Homo sapiens: one gene and its partners. The protein of the gene in region 3 purifies or fractionates together with the protein of the main gene of each other region. This does not show direct contact. Each region holds a gene or a part of one and is shown on either strand. Other genes may lie near its edges.

The links. Proteins that work in one complex are often made in the same cells at the same time.
Region 1: the proteins of RFPL4B (region 3) and KAT14 purify together in Homo sapiens (affinity purification with mass spectrometry; 3 studies listed by BioGRID and IntAct, with this or other methods). This does not show direct contact.
Region 2: the proteins of RFPL4B (region 3) and CHD8 purify together in Homo sapiens (affinity purification with mass spectrometry; 3 studies listed by BioGRID and IntAct, with this or other methods). This does not show direct contact.
Region 4: the proteins of RFPL4B (region 3) and ZBTB10 purify together in Homo sapiens (affinity purification with mass spectrometry; 3 studies listed by BioGRID and IntAct, with this or other methods). This does not show direct contact.

Annotation. Positions count from the first base shown.
Region 1 is NC_000020.11:18,158,363-18,161,862, reverse strand, and holds part of KAT14 (cysteine-rich protein 2-binding protein), read right to left. Parts: intron 2,780-3,500; coding exon 2,598-2,779; intron 44-2,597; coding exon of another isoform or gene 41-43; coding exon 1-40. UniProt on the Homo sapiens protein: Component of the ATAC complex, a complex with histone acetyltransferase activity on histones H3 and H4. May function as a scaffold for the ATAC complex to promote ATAC complex stability. Has also weak histone acetyltransferase activity toward histone H4.
Region 2 is NC_000014.9:21,400,624-21,404,123, forward strand, and holds part of CHD8 (chromodomain-helicase-DNA-binding protein 8), read right to left. Parts: intron 3,041-3,500; coding exon 2,830-3,040; intron 2,590-2,829; coding exon 2,394-2,589; intron 1,881-2,393; coding exon 1,713-1,880; intron 1,514-1,712; coding exon 1,334-1,513; intron 891-1,333; coding exon 780-890; intron 449-779; coding exon 252-448; intron 1-251. UniProt on the Homo sapiens protein: ATP-dependent chromatin-remodeling factor, it slides nucleosomes along DNA; nucleosome sliding requires ATP. Acts as a transcription repressor by remodeling chromatin structure and recruiting histone H1 to target genes.
Region 3 is NC_000006.12:112,346,102-112,350,129, reverse strand, and holds the start of RFPL4B (ret finger protein-like 4B), read right to left. Parts: upstream 2,801-4,028; 5' UTR 2,723-2,800; intron 938-2,722; 5' UTR 809-937; intron 527-808; 5' UTR 422-526; coding exon 1-421.
Region 4 is NC_000008.11:80,492,726-80,496,225, forward strand, and holds part of ZBTB10 (zinc finger and BTB domain-containing protein 10), read left to right. Parts: intron 1-3,500. UniProt on the Homo sapiens protein: May be involved in transcriptional regulation.

The DNA.
Region 1 (3,500 bases), on a different chromosome or scaffold from region 3:
CCCTCAACAGTAATGATGGGATCTAAAGTTGGTTTTGAGGCTGCTAAGAAAGAATAAATACAGGCTGAGTATCCCTCATCTGAAATGCTTGGGCACAAGCATGTTTTGGATTTCAGATGTTTTCGGCTTTTGGAATATTTGCATTTTACTTATTGGCTGAGTATCCCAAACCCAGAAATACAAAATCCGAAATGCTGCAAATGAGCATTTCCTTTGAGCGTTATGTCAGTGCTGAAAAAGTTTCAGATTTTGGAGTGTTTTTGATTTTGGATTTTCAGATTTGGATTGCTCAACCCATATCTAAATTTTAAAATAACTACTCAACTTTAGTTTCTTTTGCTAATTTATTATTATGAGTAATATCATGTTCAATAAAGAGAAATGTTCAATGAATGCCCTAAACTAAAAAAGACTTAGATATCTCTTGAGAAAAAAGAAGTTATACTGCAAATTTAAACAAATAAATACTATCTTTCACCTACTGGAACTGGCAAACATTAAAAGTTTAGCCAGGCGTGGTGGTGCACGCCTCTTAATCCCAGAACTTTGGGAGGCTGAGGTGGGTGGATTTTGAGCCTGGGAGGTGGTGGCTGCAGTGAGCCAAAAAAAAAGTTTGATAAAGCTCAGTAAATGTATGGGGAAATGGGCATTTTCATGGGCATTTCAATGGGTACTTTTTTTTTTTTTTGAGACAGGGTCTTGCTCTGTCACCCAGGCTGGAATGTTAGTGGTGTGATCTCGGCTCACTGCAACCTCCGCCTCCCGGGTTCAAGCAATTCTCCTGCCTCAGCCTCCAGAGAAGCTGGGATTACAGGCATGCGCCATCACGCCCGGCTGATTTTTGTATTTTTGTACAGATGGGGTTTCATCATGTTGGCCAGGCTGGTCTCGAACTCCTGACCTCAGATGATCCACCTGTCTCGGCCTCCCAAAGTACTGGGATTACAGGCATGAGCCACCATGCCCGGCCTTATTACAGTTTCTTGGAGGATAATTTGGCAATCCTGATTAAAATTTTGAATGAATATGCCCTTTGATGTAGAAACTCCAGGAATTTATCACATTTTCACATGTACACAAATTTGTAGAATTGTAGCACTGTTTAAAGTAACAAAAGGTCAGGCATGATGGCTCATGCCTGTAATCCCAGCACTTTTGGAAGGAGAGGCTGGAGGATCACTTGAGCCCAACAGTTCAAGACCAGCCCAGGAAACATGGCGAGACCCTATCTCTATTACTTTTTAAAAATGTTTTAATTAAAAAATAAATAAATAAAATAGCAACAAAAAGGTAGAAACAACCAAAATGTCCATCAACAGGAGAATGGTTTAACAAATTATCACATAATTATATAATGGATGTAATGAAATAAAATAGGGTAAATCTACATGTACTGTCATGGAAAGATGTCCAAGACATACTGGTAAGTGTGGCAAAAATGGAAAACTCATAATAGTACGAGTCCATTTTACTTTTTTAAAAAACTAAGAAAATGCTTAAATCTGCAGAGATCTTTCTGAAAGTATTCACAAAAGACAACAGTGGTTACTCTGGGAAGTGAAATTGCAGGCCATAGGCAGGTGGGGGAACTTTCATACTTTACACCCTTAAGTACTATTTGATTTTCTTCCCAATCATATTTTTAAAATTTTAAAAGCTCATCAGCCTGATCCGGTGGCTCACCCTGTAATCCCAGCACTTTGTGAGGCCAAGGCAGGTGGATCGCCTGAGGTCAGGAGTTCGAGATCAGCCTGGCCAACATGGCAAAACCCCGTCTGTAATAAAAATACAAAAATATTAGCTGGGCATGGTGGCATGTTATTTGGGAGGCTGAGGCACGAGAATCATTTGAACCTAGGAGGCAGAGGTTGCAGTGAGCAAAGATTGCACCACTGCACTCCAGCCTGGGCAACAAAGCGAGACTGTACCTCAAATAAATAAACAAACAAGCAAACAAATAAATATAAAAATTTAAAAGCTCATTAAAAGCTTTTTAGATTATAAAACCAGATCAATATGTGATAGTAAGAAGTCACTGTTAACATCTTTTTAAATATGAAAATGGCATTATGGTCAGGCTGCAAAAAGGAAAGAATCCTGATCTCTTAGAGATACATACTAAGATATTTAGGAATGAAATGTTGATTCCTGGGATTTGTTTCTAAATAATCCAATTGTAAGAATGGGGAAGGTTGGGGAAAAGTACTGAGGATTTAGATAAAATGAGACTGTCAGGAGTTAATGTCAAAGTGAGGTGGAAGGTACATGGGAATTCATCATGTTATTTATTACGGGAATTTTAAAATATCTCTTCACCTTTGTGAGAAGTTTAAAAACAAAAACCAGATGGAAAACATTGAACCTTTCAGATACCCTGGGAAATTTATAAAACTGATAGCTTGATTAGGAAGTGATAAAATGTTTTTATGTGGCATTTATTTCTAGCACACACACAAGTGTCATCACAGAAGTGTTAAACAGAGTAGCTCCAGAGAGGCCTGCGAGCCATGCCCAGTGGAAGCAGGAGCGTCTCCTGGGCTCACACCTGCTTGGCTCTGGTCTGACTAGCAACTTTTGTACTGTTCTCACAACAGTACCTTTTATTTTCAAAGTAGAGGCAGACAACTTCTCTCCTTCAGGTTTCATCGTTGGGGGCTTGTTATGAACAAGTTTCCACCATCCTGGCTCTCCAAATTCCTGAGCACCTGAACGGAAGTACATGGGACTTCCCACGCTGAGGCAACCTGCCACGGTGCTCCACCAGGTAGACGTCTTTTTCCTAAAGAGTCCAAGAATTTAAAAATGATTGGCACTTTTGCTCATTATACAGAAAAGACAGTCTGTGTATACTGTGACTCCTGGCCTGCAACATGCAATGGCACCTCCAGCTACTGAAGGAGCAGAGCACGAGAGGCAGGAGAGAGGCTCTGGAGTTCGCCTGCTTCAAACCCTGGCGCTACCAACTTCTAGCAGCCTCGGTTTGTTCATCTGTAAAATCAGGATAATAGAACTTACCTCACAGGGTTGCTGTGAGGATTAAATGCAATAATTCAAACAAAGCACGTGAAATACTTCTCATCACAATCATCACGATTATGGAATTCTACAGGCTAATTTTAATTAAGTTGCTTTGTTATGTGAATTAAGCACAGCTCCCAAGAATAAAGCATACAAAAAGTGTAACTCCAAGGCTGGGCATTTTGTGATAGAAGTTAACTGGCTCCAGTAAATACCTCATTTTACCCGAGGAGTAGCACACATCTCTCAATCTGATCCTATCTGCCTCGATGCACTAGAGTGGTAACAAAACTATGTGGTATACTCCACAAACACAGAGAGCACCTACTGCACAACAAAATAACAAAACATGCAAAATGCCAACTATCCGGGTTCCCTAACGGAAATTCTTTCAAGGCGACTGTTCTATTTCCACCTTGAAAAGATACATCAATCCCCGGAAATCCTAGAAGACAGTCTTTCACAAGAAGACCAGTCTAACA
Region 2 (3,500 bases), on a different chromosome or scaffold from region 3:
AAAACTATATTAACATTTTTCTGAGAAATGACAGTCCCCTGTCCCTCAGAATCATGTCTCTGAAAAGGTGTGAAACAAAGATCTTAAAAAACATGGTAACAGAATAAACAGAACAAACTCCCTCCAAGGCAAATATTTTTTCACATTATCCCTTCTTTGATCATAGCCCCCAATTTGAAAGGCAAACCAAGAGTATCTATCAGGATGGAGATGCACTATGCACTACCTCTAATGGTAAGTTGGGGTCTTACCCATATACCAGGAGATGCTTTTCCACCCGAAAGCAGTCAGTGCGCCCATAGGCATGATGACGGTCATGTCTGCGGGAGCGTGGCCGCTCATCATCCTCACTTTCCAAATCAGAGAATTCCACCAGGTCATCATCTTTCAGAGTGCTAAAGTGGCGCGTTTGTTTTCGTACTCTAGGTGTGTCAATTACCAAATTATTCTATGAAGAGAACAGAAGGAGAAGTAATTCTCTTCCTGATTTGCTCATGGGAAAAGAATAAGACAATTAGGGATTACAATAACATTGGATGTAACGTGTAGATACTCAGAGATTTTTTTAAATGACATGTAAAATAATCTACAGAAAGCAAAATTATTCAGAAAGCAACTACTTTTCTGGGGCCTCCTAGGTAGAAAGTATCCACAACAGCCCTTGTATACAATACACCATCATAAATCACAATTAGCATCAAATAATCAGAGTAGCTGTAAAGACTCCCGAAAGTAGTGTGGTCTTCTGCGATACTTCCTCCCTAAAAGAAGAAACTCACCTTGCTGTTGAGCAGATCCATGTCTAGGTCAGCCTTTTTGGCCCACTTTTGCCAAAAGTTGGGGTCATCCAAAGAAATATCTGTCCTGTTTTCAGAAGCAACAAAGCTTGCCTAGAGAAAAACAAATGCAGAGGTAAAGCTGACTTTTTTTTTTAAGTGGTGCAAAATCAGCAATTATGTTTTAAAAACATTTTTTTTTTGAGACACAGTCTTGCTCTGTTGCCCAGGCTGGGGTACAGTGGCACGATCTCCGCTCACCGCAACCTCCACCCCCTGGGTTCAAGTGATTCTCCTGCCTCAGCCTCCCGAGTAGCTGGGACGACAGGCGCAAGCCACCATTCCTGGCTAATTTTTGTATTTTTGGTAGAGATGAGGTTTCACCATGTTGGGCAGGCTGGGTCTCGAACTCCTGACCTCAAGTGATCTGCCCGCCTCAGCCTCCCAAAGTGCTGGGAATATAGGCATGAGCCACCATCCCCAGCATAAAAACATAATTAAATCCTAGAGATTCCGGTCTCTGTGTTTTTCTAGCCTCTGGCATAGACAGAACATGCCTTAGCAAAGGTGGAACCTTTTCCTTCAGATTCAATGGTGATGGTTGTAGTTCGTCTTAACAAGATCTGGTCAATGTCCTCTTCACAAAACTTGGAGCCTTCATCATCTTCCTCCATGATGGCTGCATATGCTCCTTTTCTTAAAAGATCTTCAATCTCCTTCTTAGAGAACTGTTGGATCTGTAAAAACCAATAGAAAGATGAAAAGACTATCAAGAGAATAATATCTAACCATGCCATAATATTTTAGCTATTATATTTTAAGAAATAATAATTGAGAATCCAAACAAGGTAGTCAAATCCCTGTGTACAAATAGCTTTTGTTTCCCTCTATCACAATGATCTACTACAAACTTATCTATAAACTAAGAGGACTCACTCCAGTAATGTTGCCATCCCGACCACTCATGGATTGAAGCACAGCCTTATCCAACCCCAACTTGAGGCTGGCCTTATCAAACATCTCTCTCTCGTAGGAATTACGAGTGATGAGGCGGTACACCTTCACAGCTTTGCTCTGCCCAATTCGATGACATCGTGCCTGGGCCTGGTTTAAAATAAAAACGAAAGGAAAGGAGAAAGATATCATAAAATTAGCAAGGGAAAGGATACAAAATACCAATTTATGATTCTTTCACCTCTATAGAGCAGCCATGAGATCAACTCAAAACCAAGAGTCAATTTCAAGATGAAATTATCACCCCATCATGTAGACCAGGGGTCAGCAAACTAAAGTCTGTGTGGACATCTGTTTTTAAAAATAAAGTTCAATGGGGACACAGGTGGGACCACCCACTCATTTACATATTATCTATGGCTGTTTTTGCGCTACAGGACTTGGAGATAAGCAGTTGCAACAAAGACTCGATGGCTCACAAAGCCTAAAACATTTACTGTCTTGTCGTTTACAGAAAACGTTTGCTGATTCCCTGACCTAACTGCCACCCTTAACTAAGGAAACAATTCCAAACTCTGTGAAAGGTCTTTCTAAAAGATCCTATTCTTGTTGAAAAATCTCCCAAGTTAGGTAGTTAGTCCCTAAGACAATGAATTCCTTTACCTGCAGGTCATTTTGTGGATTCCAGTCTGAATCAAAGATGATGCAGGTATCAGCAGCTGTAAGATTAATACCAAGTCCACCAGCCCGGGTACACAGTAAGAAGACAAAGCGGTCTGAGTCAGGCTTGCTGAAGCGGTCAATGGCAGCCTGTCGAAGGTTGCCTCTAACTCGCCCATCAATACGTTCATATAAGTACCTGTATGGGAATCGCAGAAAAAAAATGTAAGTGGCTAAGCAGAAGTGGAGACCAAAACAGCAGGCTAGGATCAATACCAGTACTCCCATATCAAAGCTGGTCAAAAACCCAAGTTGAGAGTGAGAATCTTAAAAACTTCTCTTATTGCAATTGGTGAACTCTAATTAAATCCAGGCCCTCCTACTTTTTGCTGCTTTATGAGGACAGAGTAACCACAGGCTAGGATGACTCTTTTCTTACCTCCTCTGGATTAAATAATCCTCTAGGATGTCTAGGCAGCGCACCATCTGAGAGAAGATCAGAACTTTATGGCCACCAGCTTTAAGCTTTGGAAGCAACTTGTCAATAAGAACCAGTTTGCCGGCTGAACGAACCATGGCCTGCAGGTGAAAGTCATGAGGTATAATATGGCAAGCTTCACGGAATTCTGTTAGGATTTTTTCTTCAGCACCTGCCAAAAGAAAAATCAAATTATGTTGAGATCCAGTGAACCATATTAAGGTTGTAGTCTATTTAACTAAGAAAGCAAAAGGAAAAAAATGTAATTTGACTTAAGACCAACATTTCTCACACACAGAATTTCAGCACAAAAAAGTCTTAAATCGGCTGGGTACGGTGGCTCATGCCTGTAATCCCAACACTTTGGGAGGCCGAGGCAGGTGGATCACTTGAGGTCAGGAGTTCGAGACCAGTCTGGCCAACATGGTGAAACCCCGTCTCTACTAACAATACAAAAATTAGCCAGGTGTGGTGGCGGAGGCCTGTAGTTCCAGCTACTCAGGAGGCTGAGGCAGGAGAATCGCTTGAATTCGGGAGGTGGTGGTTGCAGTGAGCTGAGATTGCGCCACTGCACTCCAGCCTGGGTGACAGAGCGAGACTCCACCTTAAAAAAAAAAAAAAATCAGCCGGGT
Region 3 (4,028 bases):
AGCAGGGAGTACCCAGGACACAGGCCAGCCTGGGATCTTTTGTCAGATCGTGGTGGATCTTCTTACACTGAGCGCTTCTTAGATCATTGGAGAAGACAAGGAGGGAGCTGGCAGTGGCTGCATCCAGGGTCACATCCTCCCGAAAATGCCGGAGCTCCTCCCTCACGTGCAGACTTTGCTCAAGTCGGCTATTGTGCTGCTTGGTCATAAGTGTTAGGACGCTCACTTGCCATTCTTCCAAAGCAGGTACCTTCACCACGTCTCGACACAAGGGGCACATCGCTCTAAAATCATGGTTTTCTAGTATATACCTCTGGATGCAATCAAAGCAGAACACGTGTGTACAAGAGAGAGAAATGGAACAGGAGAAAAAATCCAGGCAAACTGGACAGGACAACTCTGCTTGCAGGCGTTTGGCCATGGTTCTTAAGGGTTACTCCTTAGCCGTGAAGTAAACTGAAGTGATCCTTTATTGGCTTCTGGAAGCACTTGGGAGCCCTCAGTACACAATCCACTCTTCAATAGTCTAAATCCAAGATTAAATAATATAAATTAATAAATAAGTTATTGGCATACATAAATGAATTATATTATTTAATAAATAATAATAAATTTATTAACTAAGAAATTAAGAATAACAAAAAAATAATATTTCTGCAGTTTGTGTATGAAAGTGACACTAAATTGCTAGAGAATCACAGTAATGTAGTCATGGTGATAAAAATGATTTCGAAACTCTTCAAACTCTAGATAATCACAAGACAGAAATAGGACAGTGGAAACTTTCTTTTCAGACAGTGCAGCTTACCTAGTCTGAAGACTTCCAGGTGATGTGTTGGCTGCTCCGGCCAAAGTTTCTCCTAATGGGGGCTGAATTCAAGTGGGTCTTTAACAGAATCTCAGTATAGTCTCCACTCAGTATTTCTTTGTAGATCCTCTGCAGTTCAGGAAAAAGAATGTTCATGTCTAAATTCAATAATGAAAATAAAGCCAATTCTACATTAATCATCACAGAAAAGTGACTCTAAGGAATCCTCAGAATTTCCAGGAAAATTACCACATGTGAGTAAAGCCAGCAAAATCCACTGCAAAATGAGAAGCCCATAAAAGAATCAAGTTTAAGGACAAAGTGTTATTAGATGAAATGCTTTAAAGCACTCTAAGAAAACTAATTAAGGCTTGAATTAATGTGAATAAAAATATAATAGTCATCAACTTCTCCAAAATAATCATGCCTGAATACAAACCAAAAAGATGTTCCAGACAAGGAAGATGCCCTCCTGTTACCCCAACTGCTCCCAAAGCTTGAGAGCCTCTGGTGCTCCCAGAGGACTTCCCACCATGGCTATTATTCTTTGAGTGAGCTGTCTCTGACATGCTGGGCACAGCATATTGGACCAGGCTAGACCCATGACCCAAAGACAGCCTCGCAAAGCTGGACAGCACCTTTGAGATTATGTGAACAGAGGACTGTTCTCCAATAAGAGCCTGCACTGAGCAGTAACTAGCAGAACTCCTTACCAAGAACCCACAAATCACACATTCAGTGGTGACAGTAGTAACAGAATGAGGGACAGAAAGAGGAGCAGCATCAACATTACCAGAGAGAGGAAGTGATGAACACCGATGAGGCCAGCCTAAGACTGAGTTACTAGAACTGTCCTACATCCCAGAACACATTCTCTAATCTCTTTCCAACAAATACTTATTGAGCCCCTTCTGTGCTCTTGGCCTCAACTGGACTCTGGAAACACAAACGTGTGTAATAAACAGGGTATCTGCCCACATAAAACTTTGTCTTCCAAGTCCTGATCAGCATTCCAATCTCATGGTGCCTGGCTGGCGGACAACCAGAGATTACCTCTTTCTTAAATTCTGTTATCTTTTTCAATTTAATGGGAAATTTAACATGGTGCTGGAAATCTAATTGCCTAACCCACCTTGGAATGTATCTAAGAAAACAATTTTACAAAAGAAAAAAAATGCTACACTTATTCACAAGTTGTTCATTTCAGTGTTAACTACCATCCCAAATGATCAGGAACAATCGAATTATCTAACAATAATAAAATGATTCAGCTAATTATGACACAACTACTAAAAGTGGCCAAGTATATTTAAGTGAAAACCCGAAGTGAAGTCTTTTTTTTTTTTTGAGACGGAGTCTTGCTCTGTCGCCCAGGCTGGGGGTGCAGTGGCTCCATCTCGGCTCACTGCAACCTCTGCCTCCCGGGTTCAAGCAATTCTCCTGCCTCGGTCTCCTGAGTAGCTGGGATTACAAGCATGTGCCACCACGTCCGGCTAAGTTTTGTATTTTTAGTAGAGACGGGGTTTCACCATGTTGGACAGGCTGGTCTCTTGACCTCGTGATCCACCCACCTCAGCCTCCCAAAGCGCAGGCGCGAACCATGGCGCCCGGCCGAAAACCCAGAAATCTTTTAAGAAATGTTGGAAAATAAAAAGAAACCATTTTAAAACCATTTAAATCCATTGTAGTTGAAAACACATAAAAATACAAGTTCATGCAAAGAGTGACCTGAGGTTCATATGTAAAAATTTAAATGGCAAAGTTATAGTTAAAGGTGAAGAAAGCTCCCTGGCACAGGAAAAAACTAGTTCTTTCTCCTCTAAAATAAATAGTTAAAGGCATTCGAAAACACCAGTTTGTAGCCAAAGACAGAATAGGACATTGGAAATAGCTTAAACAGAAGGTATAACTTACCTTGACTTGGAGACTTCCAGCAGAATTCTAAAAGATCCGAAGCCTACGTCTCTACCTCTACAGACCTCTGCTCCTCTCGGAGTTTCCGCGGAGAGACACCAGCGTTTTTATACTGCCTGGAAAACATTGTCCAACCAATCAGAGTCAGAGGCTCCGCCCCAAAGGTTGTACCACTCTAATCTGAGTAAACTCATCAACCCACCCTTCCGTTTATGATGATGACATTAAAGCAGGCTTCAAATTATATAGTAAAAAAATTCAAAATTTCTTAATAACTCCCTGAATTAGAGTGAATCTACTGCCATCTGCTCTTGTCTCTAATTTCAGAACTCAACTTTAAAAAGCAAAATGTGTTGGAGATCAAATACAGAAATGCACTGCTGAAACCTAATCACCTCGTGGCTAATGTAATCATTGGTGTTCCTATTCCTGATAGAATCATGAGCGGACAGGATCTACAACAGTTTTCATGTCCTTTGACTCAACAATTCTACTCTTAGGGGTACTTACTGGACAGGATAAGAAAGATGGCAGCTAGGCAAGGCTATTGTCCTGTAATTATTAATAATTCCATTTTTTACTCTCAAAAGTGTTCTTGGATGAACGGTAAATTTTATGGTGTCTGTATCGAGAGCAGAAGGAGCAGTAAAAGTCACAACAGAGGAAAGCTAAGACACAAACTTCCAAAAAAGGATTTGGAGGGTGAATGAAGTCCCATTGTAGAGAGGATCGCTGGAATATACGTTTTCCCCAAGAGAGGCTGCATTCTAAATAACCTCTCCTTTCTCAGGCTTCCTGTTCTGCAAGGCCCAACACACAGCTTACACAGCTTTTACTTCATTTTTACCTGGTGCTATCTCCTTTTCTGTGAGTTAAATACTTGCAGGAGCAGGTCTCAAGCGTTGCTGGGGTTTTTTTTTGTTTTGATTTTTGACACAATCTTGCTCTGTCTCCCAGGTTGGAGTGCAGTGGCTCAGTCTCGGCTCATTGCAACCTCCACCTCCCAGGTTCAAGTGATTCTTGTGCCTCAGCCTCCCTAGTAGCTGGGATTACAGGAGGCCAAGGTGGGCAGATCACATAAGTTTAGGAGCTCAAACTTTTTAAATTGTAATCTCAAGACCCTTTAAACTTGAGATTTTAATCTCAAGAATCCTTACACTCTCTTTTTTAATTATTCAAAAATGTCATTTTATTTTTTCTTTCATTTTATTTTGAAATAATTTTAGACACAGAAAATTTGTAGGAATAGTAAAAAGAGATATATTCTTTACCCAGATTTACTATTTGTTTTTTAATTGTCTGATGT
Region 4 (3,500 bases), on a different chromosome or scaffold from region 3:
CTCGGCCTCCGAGAGTGCTGGGATTACAGGCGTGAGTCACGCACCCGGCCTGAAGATTCTTAAGGGAGTGATCAGTTCTACCTGCAAAGGTTGGAAGAAGCTTGTACAACTGATTCTTGAATTTTAATTGCATTTAATTAATAGGTGTTGACCAGGATGGGGAGGGCATTTAGGCAGTGCAATTAGAAACAGCCTAAGGAGGAGCCAGGCGCAGTGAGTGGTTCATGCCTGTAATCCCAGCACTTTGGGAGGCCGAGGTGGGTGGATCACTTGAGGTCAGGACTTCGAGACCAGCCTGGCCAACATGGTGAAACCCCGTCTCTACTGAAAATACAAAAATAAGCCAGGCGTGGTGGCAGGTGCCTGTAATCCCAGCTACTTGGGAGGCTGAGGCAGGAGAATCACTTGAACCTAGCAGGCACCCCACTGCACTCCAACTGGGGCGACAAGCAAGACTGTGCCTCAAAACGCGCGCGCGCGCGCACACACACACACACACACACACACACACACACACACAGCCTGAGGAAAGTGAAGAATGGTATCTTAGAGAAGGGAGAGTTTGGTTGCTGTGCAGGATGAAAAATCAAGTTTGAATAGATAGACTGGAGGTCATGGAGGATCTCTTGTCATGCTGAAAACATTAAATTTTATTGTCTTAACAAATGGGCAACAATAGCAGTTTTAAGCAGGGGAGAATCATTATCAAATGTGTATGTGTTTCAATCTAGAGGCACCTGCGTAGTGTGTATGTGGGTTTAGAGTTTGAGGAGAGAACTGGTTGGCAGGATGTTATAATAACCTGAATAGGCCGGGCGCGGTGGCTCAGGCCTGTAATCCCAGCACTTCGGGAGGCCGAGGGGGATGGATCATCTGAGGTCGGGAGTTCGAGACCAACCTGACCAACATGGAGAAACCCCGTCTCTAATTTAAAAACAAAACAAAAAAAAAAAACCGAGCCGGGCGTGGTGGCGCATGCCTGTAATCCCAGCTACTCGGGAGGCTGAGGCAGGAGAATCGCTTCAACGCAGAAGGCAGAGGTTGTGGTGAGCCGAGATCGCGCCCTTGTGCTTGGACAACAAGAGCGAAACTTCGTCTCAAAAATAAAAAATAAAAAATAACCTGAATAACCATCGTCTGTCTGCTCCCTAACACTCACAGGATTAGAATTTCTGGGGATAGTACTTAAGCTACCAAAGAGGATGCCATCACTCAGAGATATAGAGGTGATCAGAAAACTGCAAAAGAGACCTTCTTGTCTTTTTCTCTACCAACTGTTATGATTTGTCATTGCCACTAGCATGTATTTGGCAAAACTTGCTATGGCCTTGTTTGTCTTCCTTCTATAAAATGAATTTGTTCTAAAATTTGGAAATAGAAATTACTGTTTTTGTTCTTTCAGTATATTCCAGTGGGTTGCTGCAGAGTAATATTTTTATGTTTTCAATGCTTTTAGTTTACACTTAAATGTTTGTGTTGGAAATGTCTTTTCTGCTAATTCAGTTATTGGAAAAGGGCTGTAATTGAGTAGGGTAGTAAATACTAATTGCTTGTTTCTTTAACTGAATAACATTTTCCTATTGTTAACGGATTGACTACAGGTGTGCTGTTTGACTTTCTATTACTTGTAACTGAAGTTAGCCTCTCTTCCTCTACCCCCGCAAAAGTGTAGGAGACTGGGTGATGGTCTTGTATTCTCTACAAGTTGGTGGCGTTGTTTAGGCCCCAAGCTGGAATGCTGATGACCCTATGATTCTCTCCCTCCACCCTTTACATCTGTTTTATCATGCAAGTTCTGATGATTTTTAGACTATTTTTCTAGGCTCTGCTTCACACCTCATTGACACCTATCTTCCCTAATTAAGGTCTTTTTTTTCTGGCATGTATGTTGCCCTATTAACAGTAGCTTTCCAGAGGGTACATGGCTCACACCTGTAAACTTAGCACTCTGGGAGGCCAAAGCAGGAGGATTGCTTGAGCCCAGGAGTTTGAGACAAGCCTGGGCAACACAGGGAGACTCTTATCTCTACAAAAATTTAAAAAAATAAAATAACTGGGCGTGGTGGCACACATCTTATAGTCCCAGCTACTTGGGAGACTGAGACAGGAGGATCCCTTGAACCCAGGAGGTTGAGGGTACAATAAGCCATGATCTAACCACTGCACTCCAGCCTGGGTGACAGAGTGACACTGTCTCAAAAAAAAAAAAAAAAAAAGGAAAAATAGCTTTCCAACTGATCACAGTATCTGCAGTCTTCATTCCCTGATAATAAATCTCCACCTTGCTGCCATAGGCATCTCTCCTCTTTGCTATTTCGATTATATCACTGCTTCTGAAAACTCTGTAAGGTGCCTATAGCAATGGTTCTAATATTTGGGAGGGAGAAGGGGATTCAAATCTCTCTCTCTCTTTTTTTTTTTTTTTAAGGAGATAGGGTTTCTCTATGTTGACTGGGCTGGTCTTGAACTCCTGGCTACCAGCCATCCTGTCGCCTTCCAAAGTGCTGAGATTACATGGCGCTCTTGTCAAAATGGATGGACATTTACCTCTGAAATGTGCCCAAGTGCATATTTGCATTCCGTAGGGCTTTTTAGAAAATCACATTGAAGTTCTTTTACAAATCTTAACTTTTGAGGATGCTATAGACCATCTTATGTTTTTTTAAAATGCTGGGTTTTTGTTTTGTTGTTTTTTTTTTTTTTAAATGCCGTCGCATTTACTTGAAGTGCTCATCCACCCATCCCACTCTTGGATCCTTTAAAGCTCTGCTCAGGTCTTGTTTCTTCGAAAAAGCATCCCCACACTTTAAAAACAAAAAACTGGATTAGATACACATGCTTTCTGCTCTTATAACACCTTAAGAGTCTTACCCACTAACAGTAACTTCAAATTAGCAACTGAATCATTTTGCTTCCTAGTGTAGACCCTGGCCAAAGTAGGTATTCATTTAATGTTTATTAAATAAATATGTAAAGTTAGGACTTTTCAAGCATTTTCCTTTGAGTAAAATATTTACTATTTTGTAGCCTATGTTCTGGAAATATTGAACATCTAGATAATAGGTTATAAGGATTTTAACTAACTGGACACTTACCTATATTTTCTAAATTTTGGAAGACTTGATATTGAGGTCTCATCCAGACTAAAGTTTTACTAAATGGCATCTTTACAAATAAAAAAATTCAAGATTTCATATTTAGCTCTGAATGTCTGTTTCTTTAAAATCTCCTTGTTTAGCCAGTTTAGACTAATGTCTGAGCTAATTGTGTTTTCCTTTTTGGGAGAGAGGTTAGAAAAGGTCACTACATTTGAAAAGACCAGTTGTGGAAATAGTAATTTTTTTTAACTTATCAGTGATATCTGATGTTATCAGTATACTAAAAGTGGACATAGAACGTTAAAGAAGGAACCAAAGAGGCAAAGATACCTGGAGTTATTAGGGACCTATTTTGAGATTTTGTCTCTGGCACTAAGAATTTATTAATTTATTGAGTTTAGC